Homo sapiens: one gene and its partner. The protein of the gene in region 2 purifies or fractionates together with the protein of the main gene of each other region. This does not show direct contact. Each region holds a gene or a part of one and is shown on either strand. Other genes may lie near its edges.

Region 1 (3,500 bases), on a different chromosome or scaffold from region 2:
GACTATCTGAGTGACCCTAGGACCACCCAGACCCAGGGACCTTTCCACCACCGTGGGAGGTATAAGCAGCAAGAAAGACTGAGCTGCCTGGTGGAATGCGAGCCAGGAGTCAAACACAAGTTCCCTTGAAGGAAAGAATACATATATTTATATGTATTCTTTATATATATAAATAAATATATGTTCTTTATATATAAGTATATATTCTTTATATATATAAGTATATATGATGAAGATCAAGACATTGACTAATCTATTGAAAGTATCAATTGAGCTATCTTGGTATTTTTTATTGATCAGTCAATGTTTTTGTTGAAATGCTTTAAAAAATAGTTGAATGGGCTGGGCACGGTGGCTCACGCCTGTAATCCCAGCACTTTGGGAGGCCAAGGCAGGCAGATCACGAGGACATGAATTGGAGACCAGCCTAACCAACATGGTGAAACCCTGTCTCTACTAAAAATACAAAATTTAGCTGGGTGTGGTGGCGTGCATCTGTAATCTCAGCTACTCAGGAGGCTGAGGCAGGAGAATCGCTTGAACCCGGGAGGCGGAGGTTGCAGTGAGCCGAGATCATGCTACTGCACTCCAGCTTGGGCGACAGAGTAAGACTCCATCTCAAAAAAAAAAAAAAAATAGTTGAATGGGCAAGGTGCGGTGGCTAACGCCTGTAATCCCAATACTTTGGGAGGCTGAGTCGGGCGGATCACTTGAGGTCAGGAGTTCAAGACCAGCACAGCCAACATGGTGAAACCCAGTCTCTACTAAAAATACAAAAATTAGCTTGGTGTGGTGGCAGGTGCCTGTAGTCCCAGCTACTCAGGAGGCTGAGGCAGGAGAATGGCATGAACCCCGGAGGCGGTGGTTGCAGTGAGCCGAGATAGCGCCACTGCACTCCAGCCTGGGCAATAGGGTGAGACTCCATCTCCGAAAAAAAAAAAAAAAAAAAAGTTGAATGTTTTAGAAAGAGTCCTAACAGCAAAGAAAAACATACTAGGCTTTGGTCATTATGTCTGTTTCTGAGGTAAATCAAGCTATTTATGTGTGGGTATTACCTAGTGTCAGCATGCTTTAATTACAGGTCCAGTGCCCCAGAGGACATACTCCTTGAGAACTACCAGCTAACATTTGTGGTTTTGTTTTGTTTTTGAGACAGAGTTTCACTCTTGTTGCCCAGGCAGGAGTGCAATGGAGCAATCTGGGCTCTCTGCAGCCTCTGCCTCCCAGCTTCAGGTGATTCTCCTGCCTCAGCCTCCCAAGCAGCTGGAATTACAGGCATGCACCACCATGCCCCGCTAATTTTTGTATTTTTAGTAGAGATGGGGTTTCACCATGTTGGTCAGATTGGTCTAAAACTCCTGATCTTAGGTGATCTGCCTGCCTTGGCCTCCCAAAGTGCTAGGCGTGAGCCACTGCGCCCAGCCCATTTGTGGAGTTTTAAACACTTTACATTGTGTTACCTCATTTGGTTATCTCAACTACAACAGGCAGTGGATGTACTACTATTTCTGCTATTTACGGAAGAGGGAACTGAGGCACAGATAGGCTCCTTCCTTTGCCCAAGGTCACATAGCTAGCTACTGGCAGGGCCAGAATCTTAGCAGTGTGCCTCCCACACCGATGCTGTTAACCACCGTCCTGCGCGGCTAGCCTTCTGAATGCAGGACAATTTAATGTGGCAAATGCCATGATGTGTCAACTATATATCACAGAGCATATAAACTCAGGAGGAAAATGAAGGTAGTTGGAGCTGAACGCAAAATGGATGGACAGCTCAACTGCAAGTCTTGACTATAAATCATTAATTTTTAAATACAACTGACTGGAAAAAATGCAAATCACAAAATGACAAAGCTCTCTAACTTATAGCAACAATCCTCACCCAAAGCTGCTGACGGGAGGCTCCTAACTCTCAAATACATTTCCTCTTTTTTACAGTCAGTCAGCACCCAGAGTTCATTATTAAGTTTGTTTCACAACGCCATGGCTGCTACATGCACCCATCCCTGTCTTCCCCCAGCTGTGGGGCAGGTCTCAGGACCTTGTGCACCAGCTCACTGGGGAGACACCAAATGGTAGAAACTTGGTCTCTGAGCAGCATCGCCTTTGCAGCAGCTTCTCCTCACCTCCTCCATGCCTCGATTTCCCTGCCCCATCATCCCATCAGCTTCACTGTACTGCTGGAGTAACTTCCTACTTAAAAATTATTGATAGGCCAGGCACAGTGGCTTATGCCTGTAGTCCCAGCACTTTGGGAGTCCAAGGCAGGTAGATCCCTTGAGGTCAGGAGTTCAAGACCAGCCTGGCCAACATGGCGAAAGCCCATCTCTACTAAAAGTACAAAAATCAGCTGGGGGTGGTGGCGTGCACCTGTAATTCCAGCTACTCAGGAGGCTGAGGCAGGAGAATCACTTGAATCCGAGAGATGGAGGTTGCAGTGAGCTGAGATTGTACCACTGTACTCCAGCCTGGGCGACAGTGAGACTCCGTCTCAACATAAATAAATAAATAAATAAATAAATAAATAAATAAGGTCAGTTGCAGTGGCTCACACCTGTAATCCCAGCACTTTGGGAGGCTGAGGTGGGTGGATCACCTGAGGTCAGGAGTTCGAGACCAGCCTGACCAACACAGAGAAACCCTGTCTCTACTAAAAACACAAAATTAGCCAGGCGTGGTGGCGCATGCCTGTATTCCCAGCTACTCGGGAGGCTGAGGCAGAAGAATCACTTGAACCCAGGAGGTGGAGGTTGTGGCGAGCTGAGATTGCACCATTGCACTCCAGCCTGGGCAACAAGAGCGAAAGTCAATCTCAAAAATATATAAAATAAATAAATAAATAAATATAAAAATTATTGACAACTTTTTTTTTTTTTTTGACACAGGGTCTCACTCTGTTGCCCAGGCTGGAGCGTGGTGGTGCAATTTCAGCTCACTGCAACCTCCGTCTCCGGGGTTCAAGCGATTCTCATGCCTTGGCTTCCCAAGTAGCTGGGATTACAGGAGTGAACCACCATACCCGTCCCATATTTCAACTCTTAACATTAGTTCTAACAGGGCTGGCAGGTACCACTGTCGGGGCACATTTTGGAAATGTGTGGAGTTTTTTTCTTTTTCTTTTTTTTTATACTTTTCGGCCCTTACTACTCAAAGTATGCTCTTACTAAACAGCAGTGTGGGCATCATCTAGGAGCTTGCTAGAAATGCCAAATCTCAGGGCTTACCTACTGAACCAAAATCTACTGAACTAGAATCTGCATTTAATAAGAATGCTGGATGATTCATATGCACATTAAAATTTATAAGCACTGGGCTAGAATGTACTTATTGAAATCAATATTATTTTATTACAATTAGTTTCTTTTTATTTCCCCTTTATATTGCTGTTAGGGCCCTATATTGATTTTTAAAAATGTGTGTAGATGGGTTAATTATCATGAATTTCATTTCAAGGTACTAAAAAATATGTTTCAAAATATTTCCTATGTGAGAGGCAATGG
Region 2 (3,578 bases):
TGAGGCTCAAATGCAGGGCCAGTTGCAGATTACTTACTCAGAGGCAATTTAAGGATTCAGAGTCTAGGAATAGCATGGTGGCCTCCAGTATCCAGGGCAGTGGCATTGATGGCAACATGTCCAGACTGTCTCATGTGGCCTCTGCTGTCCATTCTCTCTTGGCTTCTGCCCATTTTCTAAACCCAATCCCCCAGCCTCTCATCAACTCTGAGTTACTGATATCCCCCTAGAATTCCCTTGCTGTTTTAGATAGCCAGAGTTGGATTCTGTTGTTAGCATCCAAAATCATCACTGGCATGGTTAGGCACTATCATGCCCATTAAGGCAAGGAGGAATATTGAAGCCCAGAAGGTTAACTGAGTCACCCAGGATCAGACACCCTGCAAGGATGCAGAGCTAGATTCAAACCCATACATGGTTTTCCTCCAAGACCTGTGTCGTTAGCCACACAACACTATTGTATCAGTCAAGATAACAGCAAGACACCGCTGGCTCATTGAAACTGGGTAATTGAGGAGCATTTAATAAACATGTGCATAGAATTTAGGGAATCCAGTAAGGGGTGCTTCAGTATGCTGAGGCTGGCAATAGTGGTGGGTCATTCCCACTGCTGGGCCTACAGAGGAGAGGATGGAACAGGTGGCTGGACTTGGAGATGGGAGCTGTTTGCTGAGAGGCTTGAAGGAGCCTTCAGAGGGGAATGCAGCCACTCCTGCCACCACCTGCCAGGGAGGGAGCCCTGAGGACAGAAACCCTGATCTGACTGTCTCCCCACCCTCGGCTCTCCTCTCATGCTTCCCATTGGCTCAACCAGCCAGAAGCTGGCAGCCAGGGAGCCTGCTGGTTTAGCCACATTGGTCAGGTTCCCAGGCAGGATGGGGAGGATGGAGCATGGCGTGGCCTGTAAGTGCAAATGGGAGAGTATCCAGCACGGCCATTTGTCTTCCGATTTAGTGCATATAATATTTCAGTCACGTTTAATATGTTGGACTTAAATAACACTTGATCTATAATAAGTTAAGCACACAAGCATGCACTGGACCATGCAGTGGGTTATGTCTGGATGAATCTGTATGAATGTGTCATGGGCTTTGGTAAGGAGTGTAATGACTTTTTGGAAACAAGCTTGAGATCCACTAAGAGGGAGCTGTATACTAGTATACAGTAGGTCTGCAGGGGCCCTGGACTCATAAAGCATTTGCTTTATGCTCCAGGAGAATCTGATGCGGTGGCCTAAAGACCTCTGAAAAACATTGCCCTCATGTGTTCTGCCTCTCCTAGAGTGTATTTAATGATAATACCCCCTTGCCCTGGTCACTTTGTCAACTTCATAAACAGGAACAATGCTGGGATTGCTAAAGTGTGGGGTTCCAGACCAGCAAGCTCAGCATTATTATAAACACTGCATCCTGTACAGTCACTGCCTCTGAGCTGCTTGGTTCTTTTAGGTAGGAAAATAAATGCACCAAGATTAACAGCTTCTGGATCTAGTGCGTCTGCAAAGATTCTCACCAGAGCATCAGGATGAAATAAATGCCCACCACACACCTTCTAATGGGCTCAAAATTGCGGTTCAGAAATCATCTCTCTAGGGTCATTACCATTACCTGGGCAGGTTCTGACAGAGCAGCATTTAGGGGAATGGGGAAGTCCTTATGCGATGGAGCAGTCTGGAAGCTGGACCTCCCCGTGCAGGGAACTTTTTCCACAGAAGTGGTGCTCATTGTAAAAATACATTTACCTAACATGAGACACACGGTATGTGTGGAAAAGTATGATTGCTCTTGGGAACTGAGGATAATATCTGCCCTGGGCATCACTAAATTGGGCTGGAAGGACCCACCATCCTTTCCCCACCCATGAGGCCCATTTCCCTTTAAAGCTCAAAGTAGGAAATAACAAAATCCTGATTGAAATCTGTGGGAGATTGCAAGACAATCTCCCACAGAGATTGTCTCTGTGGTGGCCTGAACACCTACCTGCTTCACCGGGGAGGGCACTGGAGAGAGCATGGAAACTGAGGCAGGTGTTCCAGGAGCAGACTGAGAGAAGAGGAGGAGGGCAGAGTGGGGAACTAGGCAAGCACATGGGGACAGCCTCCAGAAGCCTCCCAGGGGGAGAGCTTTTACTCCACCATCCCTGACCCTTGTGTGATACAGGAAAAGAGGCATTTAGACACAGGCGGAACTCCTGGTTATTCTATTCTATATGGTTTTGGGGTCCTTCAGGTAAGGAGCGCTTCAGTTTTCACTCCTGCCAGTGGGCAGTGGCTTATTCATGTGGCCTCGTTCTAGTCACATACATTTCTGCCTTCACGGGGCTATTTTCAGGATCCAGCGATAAATGCACACAGGATGTCTGACATGGTCTGTTGTTGCTCTCCTATGGATCCCATCTCGGCCTGCCAGTATTTCCCCAGAAGAAGATACTCAGTTTAACTCTTTTCTCTGAGAAGGATGCACTTTCTCACCACGATGTCTTATTTCTCCAGGTTCCACAATCTTCAACACCCTTTTCTGGGAGTGTTGGAAAGAACCACACATAAGCATGAAACCCAAGTGTCTGATGCTAGAAAGAGGAAGTCCCAGCATGGGGCGAGCAGGATGCTTCTGTAGTGGGAGCTCTGTCCAGGTCAGGCCAAAATTGTATGGTCCAGGGCAAAACTGAGCAGGAGAAGTATCAGGTGTGCCTTCTGCATGTCACAGCCCCCACAAGAGAATTACGGTGAAAAGCATTGAGCTGTCTGTATTTCATGCCAACCCCAAGTGGCTGGTGGAATGAAGGACCAAGCATGTTTGGGGCTGTAACTTCTTTTCTGAGGCACAAATGCCCACCCAAGATTATTAGAGGAACGAGGGCAGTGGGCAGGAAGGTGAGACGCTGACTTTAGAAATAGCCGGTGATTACAGATTTAATTCATGTTATTAACTCCCTGCCTTTTACCTCCTCCCTCCTCCCTTGGCACAACTGCCAGATGGATGTGGCTGGAAGTCAGAGGACATTCTCGTGGGTTCGTGGGCCTAGGGTACAAATGACCTCAGCGTGACAGCAAACAGGACAGAGAAGACCAGGCTCTTACTCAGGAATCCACCAGCCAGGAGAATGACAATGTTGAACACCGGAACCCTGCGGGAGACAAGAGGCTGAACGCTACTGCTGGCAAAGTCTCTCCCACACGCACATGTTCCCTCTAGAAAATGCCTTCATGTCCCACTCTCCTCTGCTTAGATCCTTGCTCCACCTTTCCCGCACTGCCTGACCCTGTGCTTTTCAGTCTGTCTCATTGCCAAAAACTACTGATTAGAAACAATTCAGTGGAGAGTATAGGTCCCTGTCCAGGAGAGGCACTGGAGGGAGACAGTCGGGCTGATCAGCCCATCCTCCTCCCTGTGATGTGGTAGGGAGAGAGGACTCTGGCCAGGAAACCCGCTCTCTATTCTCAGTACCGTACCCTGCCTACTGGGATGGTCATCTCACCTCTTTAGCTCGGTTTCCTCACCTATAAACCGAGAAGAATCCACCCGTAGTGAAAATCTCATCATGAATTTTATAGATTTTGGCGAAATGATTCTAAGGTT

What was found. The genes of interacting proteins can lie anywhere in the genome.
Region 1: the proteins of TREM1 (region 2) and SEL1L3 purify together in Homo sapiens (affinity purification with mass spectrometry; one large-scale study listed by BioGRID and IntAct). This does not show direct contact.

Annotation. Positions count from the first base shown.
Region 1 is NC_000004.12:25,751,489-25,754,988, forward strand, and holds part of SEL1L3 (protein sel-1 homolog 3), read right to left. Parts: intron 1-3,500.
Region 2 is NC_000006.12:41,273,105-41,276,682, forward strand, and holds the end of TREM1 (triggering receptor expressed on myeloid cells 1 isoform 1 precursor), read right to left. Parts: intron 3,127-3,578; coding exon 3,021-3,126; 3' UTR 501-3,020; downstream 1-500.